Regions from separate parts of the Homo sapiens genome. Here region 1 is linked to region 2. The links come from fine-mapping of genetic effects on gene expression. A gene starts in region 2. The other region holds a variant in brackets. All regions are shown on one strand. Distances are from middle to middle. Region 1 overlaps NPAS4 (neuronal PAS domain protein 4). Region 2 holds the start of SPTBN2 (spectrin beta, non-erythrocytic 2).

The links. PIP is the estimated chance that this variant, and not a neighbour inherited with it, causes the effect. A credible set is the group of variants that fine-mapping cannot tell apart.
Region 1: its variant is the best candidate, but not a certain one, in a credible set for the expression of SPTBN2 in lung (TOPMed, PIP 0.53).

The regions. Positions count from the first base shown.
Region 1 is chr11:66,421,471-66,430,912 of GRCh38, forward strand. It overlaps NPAS4 (neuronal PAS domain protein 4), which reads left to right. Exons shown (of 8, transcript NM_178864.4): 2 at 650-801; 3 at 981-1,083; 4 at 1,204-1,471; 5 at 1,653-1,762; 6 at 2,108-2,243; 7 at 2,365-3,800; 8 at 4,491-5,237. The coding sequence ends at 4,519. Among named protein-coding and RNA genes, the nearest start is that of NPAS4, 5.2 kb to the left of the region's middle. RefSeq lists an enhancer at 1-207 and silencers at 140-454, 148-442. The variant G/A (reference allele first, on the strand shown) is at 4,329.
Region 2 is chr11:66,724,661-66,734,102 of GRCh38, forward strand. It overlaps SPTBN2 (spectrin beta, non-erythrocytic 2), which reads right to left and starts at 4,556. Exons shown (of 38, transcript NM_006946.4): 1 at 4,081-4,556.

The sequences.
Region 1 (9,442 bases), 300 kb before region 2:
TTCGGGACTCGGGAGATTCGGGACTTTCTACTTTTCCTCCTGAGCTCCCTCCAGACCTCACCTTAGTTCTGAATGAGAGTTAGAGAGCCTGGACGGTGTCCCTAACACCAGATTATGAGAGGATAAGAGCCAGGACAGAGCGGCCTCGGTGCCCGCCAGTGCAGAAGCGCTCCGGGAGCCGGGGAGGGAAGCCCGGGAAGTTGCAGGGATGGAGCTGCCTGAGCCTAGGGGAACATAGCTACTGTCCGCGGTGCTGAAAGGGATCTCCTGTCGCCTTCGGGGCGCTGCCCATGGTGCTGACGGCTGCGCCGGCCGTGTATGGCTCTGTCCATGGTTCTGAACCCACAGTCGGCTTCGGAGCTCTGTCCGCGGTTCTGAAATTCAGAGCCGCTTTGGAGCTCTGTCCGCGGTTCTGAAATTAAGAGCCGAGAGGAGCCGACCCCGCTTTAGAAGTCGAGGGCTTGTGGGCTATGGAGATACAGCAACAGGTTCCCTGGCCAAGAGCTGCGGGCAGCGGGTCAACAGGTGTTTGCAGAGGCAGGTCCATGAGAAATTCCTCTGGATTCTCTGAAACTCAGACCATGCCTTCCTCACTTCTTCTCTGCCTCCCAGTCTTACTCCTGACGCACTACGTCTTCTCGCCCTACAGGCACTCCTCTGGCGGGCCCCACGGGGCTTCTCTCAGCTCAAGAGCTTGAGGACATCGTAGCGGCACTACCCGGCTTTCTGCTTGTGTTCACAGCCGAGGGGAAATTGCTCTACCTGTCTGAGAGTGTGAGCGAGCATCTGGGCCACTCCATGGTGAGTGCTAAGGGTCCTTTCAGCTGAGGCTGGGCATGGAGTGGGTGCCGTGAGCCTTCCACTCCTGAGGAACTGGGAATTACTATGGAGGGAGAGGTTATACCCTACAAGATACTGTAGATCAAAGATTGGCTCCTGCTGTTCTCCCTAATGGTCATCTCTTCTTTTCCTCCCTCCAGGTGGACCTGGTTGCCCAGGGTGACAGCATCTACGACATCATTGACCCAGCTGACCACCTCACTGTGCGCCAGCAACTCACCCTGCCCTCTGCCCTGGACACTGGTAAGGACTCCCTTCTCCCTTCCTCGGTCCAATTTCCCACCTGCTGCCCTTCTCCCCACCATCCACTGTCTCTCTCTCAGCCACTCACCCTCTTATCTGTTTTTCTCTTCATCTATCTAGATCGCCTCTTCCGCTGCCGCTTCAACACCTCCAAGTCCCTCAGGCGCCAGAGTGCAGGCAACAAACTCGTGCTTATTCGAGGCCGATTCCATGCTCACCCACCTGGAGCCTACTGGGCAGGAAATCCCGTGTTCACAGCTTTCTGTGCCCCTCTGGAGCCGAGACCCCGCCCAGGTCCTGGCCCTGGCCCTGGCCCTGCCTCGCTCTTCCTGGCCATGTTCCAGAGCCGCCATGCTAAAGACCTGGCTCTACTGGACATCTCCGAGAGGTAAGCCTGGAGTGTTCAGATTCCAAGAGAAAGGCAGGCCAGAGATGAAGGGACCCTAGATTCTGGAGTCAGGGGCAGGGAGGATGGGGTTTAGGGGGGCAGAGGATCTGGGAGGGAGTGAGATGCATGGGTATCAAGCAAGGAAAACAGAAAGCTGACCTCACCCTTTCCACCTTCCCAGTGTCCTAATCTACCTGGGCTTTGAGCGCAGTGAACTGCTTTGTAAATCATGGTATGGACTGCTGCACCCCGAGGACCTGGCCCACGCTTCTGCTCAACACTACCGCCTGTGTGAGTGTCCAGAGAGGCTGGGGACAAGATAGCAAGCTGGGAAAGGGCATGGGAGACCAGACAAAGAATGATCTGTAGTCAAGAGTGATGCTGGGGAGATAACAGAGGCCAACAGTTTCGGATGCTATAGGGTGAACATGAAGGTGAGGATTCAAGGCAATAATCAAATCAGAACTGGGGGACTCTGAGTGGTGAGGTCAAGGTAGAGAGCTGAGTGGTTCAGGTGAGGGTAGTCAGAAGAGAGGATGTCACGGCTATCTCAATTCAGTGGAGAGGTGACCAAGGGTGGGGAGTAGGTAGAATTGCCTGGTGGACATCCTAACTCTGCATCTTCTTTCTCCCCAGTGGCTGAGAGTGGAGATATTCAGGCAGAGATGGTGGTGAGGCTACAGGCCAAGACTGGAGGCTGGGCATGGATTTACTGCCTGTTATACTCAGAAGGTCCAGAGGGACCCATTACTGCCAATAACTACCCAATCAGGTAAGCCACAAGCCAGGGGACTAGGGGGCAGCTGAGGTCGTCATGGAGGAGACACAAATCAGGGAACTGCTCTGGATATGGACGTCGGACCCTTACCAGCTGCCTCTTCTCTCCTCTCCAGTGACATGGAAGCCTGGAGCCTCCGCCAGCAGTTGAACTCTGAAGACACCCAGGCAGCTTATGTCCTGGGCACTCCGACCATGCTGCCCTCATTCCCTGAAAACATTCTTTCCCAGGAAGAGTGCTCCAGCACTAACCCACTCTTCACCGCAGCACTGGGGGCTCCCAGAAGCACCAGCTTCCCCAGTGCTCCTGAACTGAGTGTTGTCTCTGCATCAGAAGAGCTTCCCCGACCCTCCAAAGAACTGGACTTCAGTTACCTGACATTCCCTTCTGGGCCTGAGCCTTCTCTCCAAGCAGAACTAAGCAAGGATCTTGTGTGCACTCCACCTTACACGCCCCATCAGCCAGGAGGCTGTGCCTTCCTCTTCAGCCTCCATGAGCCCTTCCAGACCCATTTGCCCACCCCATCCAGCACTCTTCAAGAACAGCTGACTCCAAGCACTGCGACCTTCTCTGATCAGTTGACGCCCAGCAGTGCAACCTTCCCAGATCCACTAACTAGCCCACTGCAAGGCCAGTTGACTGAAACCTCGGTCAGAAGCTATGAAGACCAGTTGACTCCCTGCACCTCCACCTTCCCAGACCAGCTGCTTCCCAGCACAGCCACCTTCCCAGAGCCTCTGGGCAGCCCTGCCCATGAACAGCTGACTCCTCCCAGCACAGCATTCCAAGCACACCTGGACAGCCCCAGCCAAACCTTCCCAGAGCAACTGAGCCCCAACCCTACCAAGACTTACTTTGCCCAGGAGGGATGCAGTTTTCTCTATGAGAAGTTGCCCCCAAGTCCTAGCAGCCCTGGTAATGGGGACTGCACGCTCTTGGCCCTAGCCCAGCTCCGGGGCCCCCTCTCTGTGGATGTCCCCCTGGTGCCCGAAGGCCTGCTCACACCTGAGGCCTCTCCAGTCAAGCAGAGTTTCTTCCACTACTCTGAAAAGGAGCAGAATGAGATAGACCGTCTCATCCAGCAGATTAGCCAATTGGCTCAGGGCATGGACAGACCCTTCTCAGCTGAGGCTGGCACTGGCGGACTAGAGCCACTTGGAGGACTGGAGCCCCTGGACTCCAACCTGTCCCTGTCAGGGGCAGGCCCCCCTGTGCTCAGCCTGGACCTGAAACCCTGGAAATGCCAGGAGCTGGACTTCCTGGCTGACCCTGATAACATGTTCCTGGAAGAGACGCCCGTGGAAGACATCTTCATGGATCTCTCTACCCCAGATCCCAGTGAGGAATGGGGCTCAGGGGATCCTGAGGCAGAGGGCCCAGGAGGGGCCCCATCGCCTTGCAACAACCTGTCCCCAGAAGACCACAGCTTCCTGGAGGACCTGGCCACATATGAAACCGCCTTTGAGACAGGTGTCTCAGCATTCCCCTATGATGGGTTTACTGATGAGTTGCATCAACTCCAGAGCCAAGTTCAAGACAGCTTCCATGAAGGTGAGTCAGCCAAAAGGTCCAAGAACTCAAGTCCCTGTCCTGCCAATGAAATGCTGGGTAGATTTAGGCAAATCAATTCCCCCTCTCTGTACATTGATTTTATTAAGGGGATGACATCCCCTGCTGAAGAGAGTAGCAGTGGAGATAAGAAAAAATGAAAGACTTAATATGAAAGTTTGAACAAGCAGACTTGGCAGGGGTTGGGGCTGTGGGATAGAGTGCTAGGGAATTCTTAAGTAAGGGCTTGTGCTTAACTCCATGAGAGGCCTAGATCAGTCTTCAGCACCCCATTTTACAGATGAAAATAATCAAGGTCCCAGAGTTAAACAGACTTTCCTTAGGGTGCACAACAAACTGATGGAAGAGGGACTAGAGCTCTATCCTAGTATCCTAGCTCCCTGAAGGGGATACAGAGCAAGAATTTATGCAAGTTGGTAAAAGAAAGACGAGGCTCAGCCCCTGACTCCATTGAGGTAGCTCCCTGGTTACAGCCCCATCCTTCCTAAACTACAGCCACAGTTTCACTCC[G/A]TCCATCCAAATTGCCCCCTAATCTACTGAGCCTCTGGCCATCATTTCATCATTGAGCCAATATCTTTGAAGCCTATACTAATACCAACACATTCTCAGCCCCAGGATCCTCTGTGCTAATTGGTCTAACTGATTGTGTTCTCTCTATCTATCTCTCTGCAGATGGAAGTGGAGGGGAACCAACGTTTTGAATAAGTCTGTGACTTAACGTCGTCAAGTATGGCATATTGTCATCAAGACGTGGAGCCGCTCTCCACCCCCCCGGGACTGTTGGGGGGATTCTGAGGGCCAGAGGGGGATATATATGATTCCCCAGGCCCTGCAGGATTTTGGGGGGGGGGAGGTGGGAGGGCAAGGGAGGGGAGCTTCTTTTTAAAATCAAGAGACTTCGAGCGATCCCAGTTTCCATTTCAATCTGTATTCACTCGTAGTGAGTTTCCTTGAATGGGATTTCAAGCGGAGAATGGGGGAGTCTCACTTCCCCGCCGCCTTGCCCCATTGGCCTGGGCCAGTTCTCCACTCCTAGGGGCCAAGCCACCCCTAGCCTTGGTGGGGGAAAGGCAGGGCCCACCCGGGCCAGCCCGTGCCCTGAGGGGCTCTTGACACCCACGTAGAATTCTCTACACACCAGTAACGGGATTTCAATTCCGATGGACTCTGCCGCCCTGGCGGCCCTTCCTGTGACTTTTGCGCCCCGCGCCTGGGGTGGGGGGTGCGAAGAGACGCTACGTTCCTTTCCGATGGAGGAAGGCAGACCTGCCGTCACACGTGTGCTTGCACGAGTGCGTGTACCTGGTGCGGGACTCACCCGGCCGCCAGACTGCCTGGGCCTGCCCAGATGGCCACCTCGTGGTGCTGCGGTGACTTTGTAGCCAACTTTATAATAAAGTCCAGTTTGCCTTTTTGGTACCTCTGGTGTCATGCGCTGCTGTGTAAAAGGAAGGGTGGAGGATAAGTTTGGGAGGCTTGGATGGGAGCCTGGGGGCCAGGAGGTAAAAGCTGGACCTGTTTATGGCCCCAGCATTTCTTCATCCACTTGTGAATTCATTCATTCATTCACTCATTCATTCATTCTTTCACTCAACGTCCACATGTACATTGTGTGGCCCATACTGTGCTAGAAGCTGGAAAGTTTAGGGCTGAAACAGATGTTATGTCTTGCCCTCAAGGTGCTTGGCGTCCAGTACTAGAGAATACTGGCATCTCCTCTCTGCGCCAGGCTTGCAGTGCTCGTGGTGTGGGAGGGGACAGAGGGCCTAGGAGTGGACATGAGGATTCAATTTGATGTTGGGTCTGGGCATGGGTTTGAAGCTTCTGCTCACAAGTTCTTTCTTCACCTGGTCCTTCAGGGAAGCAACTTCCTTGTGGGGCCCTGGATCGACTCACTGGAAATTATAACCACGTCTGTTATCCTTGCACAGGGCTTTCAGCTGACACACACTTTTACCTCTCTTATTTGCTGCAACAATTCTTCTGGGCAGGCATATTAGCCCATCTCACTGATGAAGAAACTGAGGACCACAGGTAAAAAGTTATTTGTTCCCACAATTGATGACAGGCATGGGTGGATGGGCAACATACCCAGAGCATCTGCATCCCAGCCCTGGGCTGTTTTCTCTGCTGGCAGAGCCAGTGAATCACCACCCATCCCAAATCATCTCATCCCAGATTACTCAAGAAGGGCAAATGTGGGCTGGAGCAGGGTCCTCTCTCCCAAGTGTGGGGTGAGAAACCCCTTCTTTTTGCTCTCCAGGTCTGTAAAGTAGAGCTGAGCAGAATATAACTCAGTAAGTCAAGAGAAAAAAGTTTCCAAAAATGCTGTTTTCCTCCAAGCTTGAAGCCCAAACAGCCACAAGGTAGGGTGAGGGGCAAATGAAAATGAGGAGATGGGCTGGGCACAGTGGGTCACGCCTGTAATCCCAGCACCTTGGGAGGACAAGGCAGGAGGATTGCTTGAGCCCAGGAGTTTGAGATCAGCCTGGGAAACATGGTGAAATCCCATCTTTACAAAAAATACAAAAATTATCTGGGTGTGGTGCACACTTGTAGTCCCAGCTACATGAGAGCCTGAGGCTGGAGAATCTCTTGAGCCTGGGAGGTGGAGGTTGCAGTGAGCCAAGACTGCACCACTGTACTCCAGCCTAGGCGACAGAGCGAACCCTGGATTCAAATCTCATCTCCACCAATTATTTGCCAAATGGGACTTGAGGCTCAGTTTCTCCACAAGTGAAGCAGGGCTGACAAACATGGTACTTATCTCCCAAAGATGCTGTTAGAACTTGATAGTGTCCATTTATAAGCAGAGAAGCACAGAATTGACTTAAGTTATTCAATTGAATTAGAAGGCAACGGTGACCTCAAAGGCTTCCCCAGTGAAGTACAGAGGCTGGGTTCCAGGAACTGAGGGCACAACCTGAGAAAGCCCCTAAGCCTCCTTTTATTCCAAATCCTCCAGCTCTGGGGCCATGCCCTTCAGACAGTCCCATGGGAAGGAAGACACTCCTAGGGACCTGTCACTATTTTTCCAACTTGGATGGGTCCTTGGGTGGAAAAGGAGGGTGGAGTTTTGCCCTCTGCCTTCCTTGTGCATCTGTTCTCCAACTTGGACAAAATAACTGGATTGTCAGCCCCAGGAGGACCCTGGCATGGAGCACAGGACTGGCACATAACAGACACACTCAAAATGTCTTCTTGAAAGGAATCTTTCTCTCTTTCTCTCTTTCTCTCTTTCTTTCTTTCTTTGTTGGCAATGTTCACTATATTGCTGGACTCAAACTCCTGGGCTCAAGTGATCCTCCTGCCTCATCCTCCCAAAATACTGGGATTGCAGGTGCACATGGCTGAGAGGACACTTCTGAAGTTCAGTCAAAGGGTTTCATTAGACTCATCAGTTTCTACTGTAAAAATGTGTTCCTAAGTTCCCCAGAGGGAATCTTAAGTGACCATGAGCTCAAGACATGCATTGGAGTCCCATATAAAAACCTCCCTGGGGTCATTAAAAAAAAAAAAAAAGGAAAGTCTGGCCACACAATTGTGGCAGCTCATGCCTATAATCCCAGAATTTTGGGAGGACGAGGTGGGAGGACGGCCTGAGCCCATGAGTTCAATACCAGCCTGGGCAACAAAGCAAGACCCAATCTCTACAAACAAAAATTAGCTGGGCGTGGTGGCATGCACCTGTAGTTCCGTCTACTTGAGAGGTTGAAGTGGGAGGATTGCTTAAGCCCAGGAGTTAGAGACTGCAATGAGCTATGGTCACATCACTGCACTCCAGCCTGGGCAACAGAGCAAGACCCTGCCACAAAAACAAAACAAAAAGGAAAATCTGAGAAACCTAAGGAAACATAATGATGAAATAGAATGTAATATACTAGAGCAGAAAAAGGATGCAAGGTAATGAGGAAGTCTGAATAAAGTATGGACTTCAGTTGATAATACTGTATCAACATTGACTCATTAATTGTGACAAATGTATCATGTAAGTGTAAGATGTTGGTAACAGGTGGAAATGGCTGTGGGGTCTGTGGGAACTTTGTAGGATCTTCAAAACTTTTCTCTAAGTCTAAATCTATAATAGGCCAGGCACGGTGGCTCAAGCCTGTAATCCCAGGATTTTGGGAGGCCGAGGTGTGTGGATCACCTGAGGTCAGGAGTTCGATAGCAGCCTGGCCAACATGGTGAAACCCCGTCTCCACTAAAAATACAAAAATTAGCCGGGCATGGTGGCGTGAGCCTGTAATCCCAGCTACTCGGGAGGCTGAGGCAAGAGAATCACTTGAACCCATTAGGCGGAGGTTGCAGTGAGCTGAGATCATGCCATTGCACTCCAGCCTGGGTGACAGAGTGAGACTCTGTCTCAAAAAACAAAAAAAAAAACAAAACAAAAAAGCCCCATAACTTTTTTTATTTTTTATTTTTTGATATGGAGTCTTGCTCTGTTGCCCAGGCTGGAGTGCAGTGGCACGATCTCGGCTCACTACAGCCTCTGCCTCCCGGGTTCCAGCGATTCTCCTGCCTCAGCCTCCTGGGTAGCTGGGATTCCAGGCGCATGACACCACGCCTGGCTAATTTTTCTATTTTTAGTAGAGACGGGGTTTCACCATGTTGGCCAAGCTTCTCTCAATCTCTTGACCTCGTGATCTACCAGCTTCAGCCTCCTAAAGTGCTGGGATTACAGGCGTGAGCCACCATGCCCAGCCGCCCCACAACTTTAAAAGGTAAAAATTATGGAAGAAAAAAAGAAACCCCTCCCTGGTATTTGGTGGCAGTGACAGGAGATGGTAGAGTGTGTGTGGACAAGAAGGCACCCTGACACTCAGAACTGGAGAGCCAGGCCGTCGACCCATGCGGAGAAAGAAGTTGAGCGAGCCCATTGCGCCCCCTGCTGGACATAGAACCATCTGCTTCTGTTCCCTTCCCTGGCACGGTCCCTGTGGCTCAGAGCATCAACAATATTGCATCTTAGAATAGATGGGTAAACTGAGGCCCAGAGAGAAGAAAGGAATTGCCCAATGGCACTTCCAAAGTGGCTGCAGAAGCCAAATCTGACTCTCAAGCACCCTTGCCACCAACACCAGGTTGCTGCCCTGGGAGCAAAAAGGTATGAGAAAGGGCTGAAGTTTTGGAGTCACAAAGACTGAGGTCAAATATTGGCTCTGGCACTTCATTTTGCATGTGATAAACACTTATGACACCTACATGCGCCAAGGGCTTTGCTGGGTCCTGGGGAAAACTGAACAAGACAGACAAGGTCCCTGGACTCACAGACCTTACACTGAAGTTGTGGGGAGACGTAACAAAAAGTAAAATAACTCTTTAAAGGGAGCATGCAGTGCGTGCAGTGAAAGAAAGAACCTGTGTACTGTGGCCGAGCGGAACTGAGGAGGGGGTGCTAATTTAGAATGTGGCATCAGAAAGCTCTTCTAAGGTGACATTGAGCTAAGACCTAAAAGATAAGAAAGAAGAAGAGGCCGGGCACGGTGGCTTGTGCCTGTAATCCTAGCACTTTGGGAGACTGAAGCAGGTGGATAGCTTGAGTCCAGGAGTTTGAAACCAGCCTGGGCAACAAGGCAAAACCCCGTCTCTACAAAAAAAAAAAAAAAAAAAAAAAAAAA
Region 2 (9,442 bases):
ATCTTTGGGGATCCAACTTGGTCCTCCCAAGGGGAGGGGCAGACAACCCTGGCCTTCAAGCAGGTCAGGTTCAGCTTCATGGAACCAGTTAATGATGGAAGCCAGAAAGGTTCTGCCTTTGTGTGTCCATGGGCACACACCTCCCTACCTACCCGAGTCTCACCACCCATCACTTCTCTCTTCTCCATACCTCCTTCCTTTCCAGAACCAGAGACTGCCAAGACCACAGCCCTGGTGGTAGGAAGTAGGGCTCAGGAGAAATGCAGAATTGGGGGTTTTGTTAAAGTTACAAAGGGGCCCAACTGGGAGCCAGACCCTCCAGGGAAGTCCAACTGTTAGAATGTCTCTGCGGATTCCTACCATTACCAGGAGAAAGTATGGAGCTAGAACCTCCTCTTCCCCCAAATAAAACCTCAGCCACTTAAATGCTCCTCTCTCCAAATTGAATTTGAAGCATGCATGCTGTGTGTTCTGAGTTTCCAGAAATGCTGTGATATGGATCAGGAACCAAGCTGGCACTGGTGTCCTTAGATCACAGACCCCCACAGGGCCACCATGTTGCAACTCCACAGCCTTCCATGTGAATGGTGCTCTCTGGCATTGTTCAGCATGTGGCTCTGAGGCTCTGCTACCTTTGTGTCTCTAGGTCTTGGTTTCCAAGCATTCTGGCTCTGTAGCTCCCTGGCCTTTTGGACAATATGCTGTGTTCTCAGCTTGTGTCCCCTGCTGCCATCTCTAGATTCCCACTGATTTCTATTTGCTTTTCTCCTACACATATCCAGCGCTGGTTTCTTGCCACTGAGTAGATCATTCCTCACCTATGACCAGGGTCTCCATGCTCACATTTCCTCAGTCGGCCAGCAGCCCCCCAGCTTCATGACCCCCTGTCATGAGGAAGCTGGAGAATCCTCAATCGTCCTCTCTTCCACAGATTCCTGAAGTCTGGCAATAGGGTGGTGCAGTAGCTAATCCAGATTACAGTCTCATCATACCTTATTCTTAGCAATTGACCTCAAGGCCAGGCCCAAGTAGCTTACACTGTTAGTGCTAGAAGAATGCCAACCCCCGCCGGCTGCAGGCTTGGGGTCCTGCTGGAATGTACTCCAGGCGCTGCTGGAGGCAGACTAGGCTCACCGTGCCGATCCTCCAGGGCAGTTTTCCTCTCTTTCAGCTGACATGTTAAGCTAGAAATCCTATACCCTGGGCTACAGGCTGCCTTGTATCCTAATTCTTCCTCTCACCACATCCTGCTCCTGATGAATTATTTCCCTCCCTCAGAGTTGATCATTCCCTCCTCTGTGCTTCCAGGGCACTTCGGCATGCAGCTAGTATTGTACTTATCACATCGCATTACGGTTAGTTGTTTACGTGTCTCTCTGCCCGCTCCACATTTAACTCATTGAGGACAAGGGCTGTCTTACTCGTTTTGGTGTTTTTCCAGACTCAGTACAACAGATATTCAATAAAGAGATATTGAATGACTTGACTATAATTCATTTTTTTTGGCCATGGAATTAATGTCTTTCTTAGGACTAGAGAGAAGCTCAAGGAAAGAATGAACACGGGATTGGAGAAGACCTGCTCCTGGGCTGGAATACTTTCAGGGTTGAGCTCAACAGCTCAGGTCTGGGGATTCTCAAACTTCCATGAATCACAACAACCTGGAGGACTGTTAAATCACAGGTCACCCCCCCATCCCCCAGTTTACGATTCAGTACTTCTGGGGTGGTACCTGGGAATGTGCATTTCTAACCTGTTCCCGGGTGACACTGAAGCTAATGGTCTGGGGACCACACTTTGAGGGCCACCCTTGTCCAAAGATGAGAAGCAGCTGGAATTGGTTAGAGGAGCCATGAGTGTTGAGAAGACACAAAGTTTCAGGGGTGAGTGTGACCCAGGGTTAGCTTCTAGGTCTGCTCAGGCCCTACCCCACACTAAACTCAAATATCACTTCCCCTCAGGAGCTCAGGCGATGGGAGAGGAAGATGAAGATGGAGTAGGTACCACAGGTAATGAAAGAAACAGCACAGCGAACCGCAGATATGCGGGAGGAGAACGGCAGAGCTAGAGAAGTCACGGGAAGGCAGAGTTGAACAAATGACAGTGAGATGAATAATAGATTAGAAGAAATGGGGACTTTGGCAAAGTTCAAATCTTATTTGCTTCTAAGTATAAATGGGTGGACTGGCAGAGAGATAAAACGAAAAAGAAGTCACAAATCAGCTCAGGGCCTCCAGGAAGGCAAGAGAAAGATGGGCCCAGGGCAGAAGGAAGGAACAGCAAAACCCCGACCCACCTCTCAGACTGTGTTCCTGATCAATTCCCTCGGAGGAAGTTAGGAACTGGGCTGAAGAGGGGGACTGAAATTTTATTTTCTCTTCTAGAATCCTCCAGTTATGGCAGATTTATTCAAATATTCAGATTCTTCACTCCCTTGCTATCTCCCTTCCCCAACCCGGGGTCACATCAATTTCTCTAAGGGAAGAATGTAAACTCCATCCTATCTTCTCCTCGGCCAATCCTTTGCCTTTCTGAATAAGCCAAGAGGTTGCCCCACACCTCAAGCTAAGACACATATTTGGAACTCACTCTGCCCCTCTTCACCTTCAAGGAAAACTGGTTTGTTGCTACCTCTGCCCATACCTGAAACCCCCGGGCTCTCCAGCGTTGGAACTGTGGCTGCTCCGAGAGGGGGAGGGCAGACGACATGTAGCAGGTTAAGACCGGGGCAAACCTGCACCTCACACAAGCATGCAATGTCCTGGGGTCAATGGGGTAAAGTTCCAAGCGAGTGGAAGGTAAATCACGACTGTGGCACCGGAGCCGGAACACCCCCGCGAGCAGGCCTTGCTGGGTAGTTCCGTGCGGGGCGGACCGCACAGCCCTATCAGCTTCCTGGCCACAGAAACGCCGCACGCGGCCGCTTCCCCGCCGCCCGAAGCGTCTGCTTTCTCCCCGGGCCAGTTCCGGCCACCACAGCCAACCGCGTGCCCCTCTCCCACACACTGTGGGGGAACAGAAGGGAGCGCGTGGAGCCAGCTGCCAAAGAGGCGAGGAGGAGCCCACGCGGCTCCGGGGAGGAGGGAGCCCGGCTCCCGCAGTCCGCCGGGCAGAGGCGGCCGAGCGCGCCCCCAGCACCTGGCCCGGCGCCGGCCCGTCCGCCCCGCAGCCCCGGCGACGCGAGGGGCCGGCGCTGTCAGACCCGCTCCCAGCCTCGCCGCGAACGTGTCCGTCAGCCCTAACTGTTCCAGACTCTTCTCCCGGCTCCAGAGAGGCCCGAGTCCCCCCCCCTCGGCCTTGGCCCCCACCGCCCTCATCCCGGTACCTGTGTGGCTGGCACGGGACCCTCTCCGTCCCGTCCCCGCCTGCTCCCGCCCCGGCTCACCCCGGCCGCCGGGACCCGACCCCGACCCCGACCCCGACCCCGCCGACCGCACGCGGCCGGACAAAGCGCGCCGCCCCGCGGGCCGGGACAAAGCGGGCGGGGCGCCGGCACCTACCTCGGCGCGGAGCCGCGGCCGGGCGGGCGGGGGCGCGGCGGGCGGGGGCGCACCGGTAGTTGCCGCGCCTGCAGCCCGGCCGCGACGGGCGGTTGCAGGCAGCGGCCGGGCGCACGGCGGGCGGCGGGCGGGCGCTGTCACGGGGCGCAGGCGGCGCGGGGGGCGCGCGGGGCGGGCGGCGGCGGGGCGCGTGGCGGCGGCGCGCGGGCGCGAGCGGCGGGACTGCGGCGCCGCGGAAGGAGGACAATAGCCTCCCCCTGCCGCAGGCCGCCGGCTCCCGCGGGAGGCCCGGGACCATCTGGAGCCGGCGGCCCCGCGGGGCTCTGGGCGGGGCCCGAGTCGCCCCTTCCCCGCCCAGCGCCATGGCAACCGAGGCCCCTCTCGGTGCTCCCCGCCGCTCCCCGCCCGGGGTAGTTGACCTGCCTCGGGGCGAACGCGGCAGCAGCTCCGAGGCCGGCTGCCGACCCCCAGCCACCTTCCGTGCGGGGTCCCCCCAAAACCCCGCCTTCCCGTCCTCGCTGGTCCCTGGGTCCCCCACCACAGCTTACAGGTCTTGATCTCCCCGGTTCGGACACCTCACCTTTGTCCCTATTCTGCTTTTCCTCCAAAATCCGTATCCCCGAGACACGCGATCCTTCCTCTAATGACACTGCCGACGAGGTTTCCCGAGATCCAGCCTCCGTTCCCCTTTCCTCTCCGGGCACCTCCAGTCCGTCTCCGCTAAGCATTCCTCTCACCCGTCCCCTCGCTCTCGCGTCCTCCTTCAGGCAGCTGGGCCGGCTCTCCCTCCCAGAACATCTCCATGGCACAGTGAAGATTCGTCTTCTACAGATCAGATGCTCCAAACAGGCATCTCAGCGCTTCTCAGCTCCTCTCATTTATCAACCAGGAGAATTCCGGCCTAGTCACCGTCTTGAGGGGGGTGGGGGTGGGGGCAGACATTTCTAGGCCTGACACGGCTGGGTTTCTCCTTGGTTTGTTAGCGTCTGAGTGGTCTAAGGTCCAAGGTCCTTAACCAAGGTGAACTGCTGCCTGCTTAGGAGAGGAAGGAATTATGCCCAAATCATGACAAACTCACAGAGTGCCAGGTGGGTGCTAAAAGCGCATCATCTCATGTGACACTCCCACCCCCACTCCAGCTCTGAGAAGTAGGTGCTGTTCTTCCAGATTAGAGAACTCAGCTCAGAGATGAGCCAGTGGTAACAGGGTGAGCTTTGTACAGAGCCGTTAGGTTATGTACTGCCCCTGAAGATGAGGGCCCGTTTCTATCCAGGGAATGCCTGAAATGGTCAAGTAAGGGCACTCAAAGAATGGGCTTTGAGTGAATTATTGGATTTAAGGTTTTATAATAGATTTATGGGTAATTTAGGATTTTGCTCCTTTCTGAAAAGGTATGCATACTGAAACAAATATGTGCAATTGAAGTACTTTCCAGATATGGTTTTGACAACCCTAACTAGTGGTGTCATCTACCTCGCCTTGGTTTTCCTAGTCTATAAAATGGGTTGGGAGGAGGGTTGGGGAGTTCCATTGAAAGATTACTTTGAAGTTCTCTCCTAGCTCTGATATCTGTGCTTCTACCACGAAACTGGAACTGGCTCTCTGGTGTGTACCTCACAGTTAGCTGCATTTGAGGCTATTTATTATTATTATTATTTTGAGACGGAGTCGTGCTCTGTCACCCAGGCTGGAGTACAGTGGCTTGATCTCGGCTCACTGCAACCTCCTCTTCCCGGGTTCAAGCAATTTTCCTGCCTCAGCCTCCCGAGTAGCTGGGATTACAGGTGCATGCCACCATGCCCGACTAATTTTTGTATCTTTAGTAGAGTCAGAGTTTTGCCATGTTGGCCAGGCTGTTCTTGAACTCCTGACCTCAGGTGATCTGCCTGCCTCAGCCTCCCAAAGTGCTGGGATTACAGACGTGAGCTGCCGTGCCAGGCCTGAGGCTATTTATTATTTTTAATAGCCACTCTTTCAGGCAATGGCATTAAAGAAACAAGGGCATAAACTGCAACTCTTCCCAGAGGTAGGATTATGTGTTGGTTGGTTCGGGGGAAGGAGGCACCAACCTGTGCATGACGGTCATCAGGGACACTTGGTCAGGGACATTAAAGCTGATGGGATGAGAATCAGCTGCCCATGGCCAGGCGCAGTGGCTCACCCTTGTAATCCCAGCACTTTGGGAGGCCGAGGCAGGTGGATCGCGAGGTCAGGAGTTCAAGACCAGCCTGGCCAACATGGTGAAACCCCTTCTCTACTAAAAATACACAAATTAGCCAGGCGTGGTGGTGGGCATGAAATCCCAGCTACTCAGGAGGCTGAGGCAGGAGAATCGCTTGAACCCGGGAGGCAGAGGTTGCAGTGAGCTGAGATTGTGCCACTGCACTTCAGCCTGGGCAACAAGAACGAGACTCCATCTCCAAAAAAAAAAAAAAAAATTAGAGAATCAGCTGCCCTGCCAAAGGAACTGGAACCACCAAGCTGCTGCTGCTGTACTGGTTACGGGAACTAAGGGTCTCAATGACAGCCTATAATATCGTGACCCAATTAGAAGTCAAGGGTATTAAGTCTTATGATTAGCAAAATAATATCTTTTATAATTTCCTATTTTCAGCATTTCATAATCCTTCAAGAAGCCTTGTAAGATAAACATTCTCATTCTTATTCTATTGATGAACAGACTGATGTTCAGACACCTAAGTGAATGTACAAGTTCACAGAATTAGTTCATGGTAGAAACTCCAGGTCTTCTGAATCCTAATATGTTCTTTCCTCTCTGCTAGACAGGGAGTATAGCAGAATGGTTAAAAGCATTGATTTTGGAGTCAGACTCCTTGGGTTTAAAACATAGTTCTGCCACCCACTGACTATGTGACCTTGGGCAAGTTACCTCCCTAGGATTCAGTTTCCTTACATGTAAAATGGCACCATAATGTGGGGAACATCAAATGAATTATTGCAGGTAAATGAATTATATGCAGCACATAGTAAGCACTTAATCAGTATCAGCCGTTATGATTTTACCGTATTATTTCCCATACTGTTTCCCGATTTGGAGAGGAAGCACATTGAATAAAGAGAACACTGAGATCACCTATCTCAGCTCTGTGACTGGGTTGCTTTGGAAACTTGTTATTTTGCTCTGTAGTGAACCAGTACAGTCAATGATGAAGAAAATATCTGGTTCCTTCTTATTTGAGTTGCAAAAGCGAATGGAATGATATCCACCAAGTTTGTTGAGCTTCTCAGTGAATCCACATTTGCTGCTTACATTACCAAGATTCATGGAAAGGTTTTGGCTCTGCCCACCAAACATACATACATAGCCGAATTCTCAGTTCTTGTTTCAATACCAGGGAAGAGGTGTCCCTCTTTTCACCTAAGATGGATTCTTCTGGCTCCTATGCTAAGTCTCATCCCCTTCTGCAGCCTCACGGCCCTCACTGCTGTCTCTCAGCTGGTTCCTTCCCATCAGCATTTAAACATGCTCAAGCATTTGCCAGCTTAAAAAATAATCAAGAAGCCCCGACTTCCCTCCATGCATTCCCCTTGCTCTTTATGTTCACAGTCTTCCTGAGTCATTTGCACTCATTGGCTTCACTTCCTCGCCCCTGCTCAATCAAATATTTATGCAAAAACTATATGGCTAATTATATACCAGGCACTGTGCTGGGATCTGGGGATATAATGATGAGTAAAATGGATACTGTCTGTTTTCTCTTGGAAGAGCCTGTGGTGGGATTGACAGACATTAATAAAATAACCCATCAGATATATAACCACAAAGTATAATGAGTGTTATGAATGAAAAGTTCAGGATGTTAAGAGAGAACTGAACAGAGTCATAACCTCAGATCACCTGAGCTGAGATCTGAAATATGAGAAGCATTAACCAGACAGAGTGGGGAATAATAATAGCTGTTACTAACATTAACGTGGAACTGTATTTCTAATACTTTACACATAACATTTCATTTAATCCTTTATAACAACTCCAAGAGGTAAGTATTAACCCCATTTCACAGATGAGGAAATGGAGACATTGAGAGATTAAGTACCTTACTCAGGGTCATCAAACCAGGCAAGGGTAGAGCTGGGATTTTAACCCAATCTGACCCTTGAACCCATGTTCTTAGCCACAGAGCATATGGCTAACAGGCCTGATGTTGCAGGACACATGGTGTACATAGGAAATGGAGAAAAGAGGCCGGGTGCAGTGGCTCACGACTTTGTAATCCCAGCACTTTGGGAGGCCAAAGTAAGCGGATCACAAGGTCAGGAGATTGAGACCATCCTGGCTAACACAGTGAAACCCCTTTTCTACTAAAAATACAAAAAAATTAGCTGGGCGTGGTGGCATGCGCCTGTAATCCCAGCTACTCGGGAGGCTGAGGCAGGAGAATTGCTTGAACCCGGGAGGCAGAGGTTGCAGTGAGCTGAGATCATTCCACTACACTCCAGCCTGGGCAACAGAGCAAGACTCTGTCTCTCAAAAAAAAAAAAAAAAAAAAATGGAGAAAAGAGGCTGCGCGCGGTGGCTCACGCCTGTAATCCCAGCACTTTGGGAGGCTGAGGCAGGTGGATCACCTGAGGTCAGGAGTTCGAGACTAGCCTGGCCAACATGGTGAAACCTCATCTCTACTAAAAATACAAGAATTAGCCGGGCGTGGTGGCAAGTGCCTGTAATCCCAGCTACTCGGGAGGCTGAGGCAGGACAATCTCTTGAGCCCAGGAGACGGAGGCTACAGTGAGCTGAGATTGTGCCACTGCACTCCAGCCTGGGGGACAGAGTGAGACTCTTTTTCAAAAAACCAACCAACCAAAAAAAAAAAAAAAAACAATACAAAAGAAATGGAGAAAAGACCAGGGTGCAGGGAAAACAGAGGGGAAGAGGGAATGTGTAGAGAATTGCGACTGGGGAGATAGGCAAGGGCTAGATCATGCAGAGCTTTTTATGTCATTATTTAAAGAATTTTGATTTTCACCTTTAGAGCCCTGAGAGACTATTGAAAGGTTGAAATAAGGAAGTGATAGGATCAACTTTGTATTTTAAAAAGGTCACTGTAGCTGCTATGGGGGGAATAGGTTACTCCAGTTGCTATGGAGGGGTGCAAAGATGTGTGAGAAACCAGTTAGGAGGCTACCACTGTGGGTAGGGTGACAGAGAAGATGGTAGCTTGAACTCAGTTGCTGGCAGTGGAGATGGAGTGCACAGGTTGAAAGAATTAACCAGATGTGGTGATGGGATAGATACAGGGGTGGTGGTGAGGAAAAAGGGTTAGTCAAGGATGAGTTGTGCAACTGGAATAATGGAGCTACTATTTGCTGAGATGAGGAATACTCCAGGAAAACCAGGTTTGGGTGGAGAGATTGTTGGTTTTGGAACCTAGGTTTGAGGTATCTTTGAACCAATCAAGTGGAGATATTGAGTAGTCAATTGTATATGGGCGTGGACTTTAAAGGGGAGGTCTGGACTTAAGATACCCATTTGGAATACATCAGTGTAGAAATAGATGGTAATTGAAGGGGATAGATGAGCATTGATACAATTGACTTAATCCAATGCAACAGAACTTCCACTCTAAAGCTGCTTTCAACAAGGTTGTCAATAATCCTATTGCACCTGGCTAACAAGGTGAAACCCCGTCTCTACTAAAAATACAAAAAATTAGCCGGGCGCGGTGGCAGGCGCCTGTAGTCCCAGCTACTCGGGAGGCTGAGGCAGGAGAATGGCGTGAACCCGGGAAGCAGAGCTTGCAGTGAGCCGAGATTGCGCCACTGCAGTCCGCAGTCTGGCCTGGGCGACAGAGAGAGACTCCGTCTCAAAAAAAAAAAAAAAAAAAAAAATTATCCTATTGCAAAATCCAGCTGTTAGTTTCCAATTGCTGTCTTACTTCTCCTCTTGGCAGCAATTGACTCTAATTATGCCCTGCTTCTTGAAA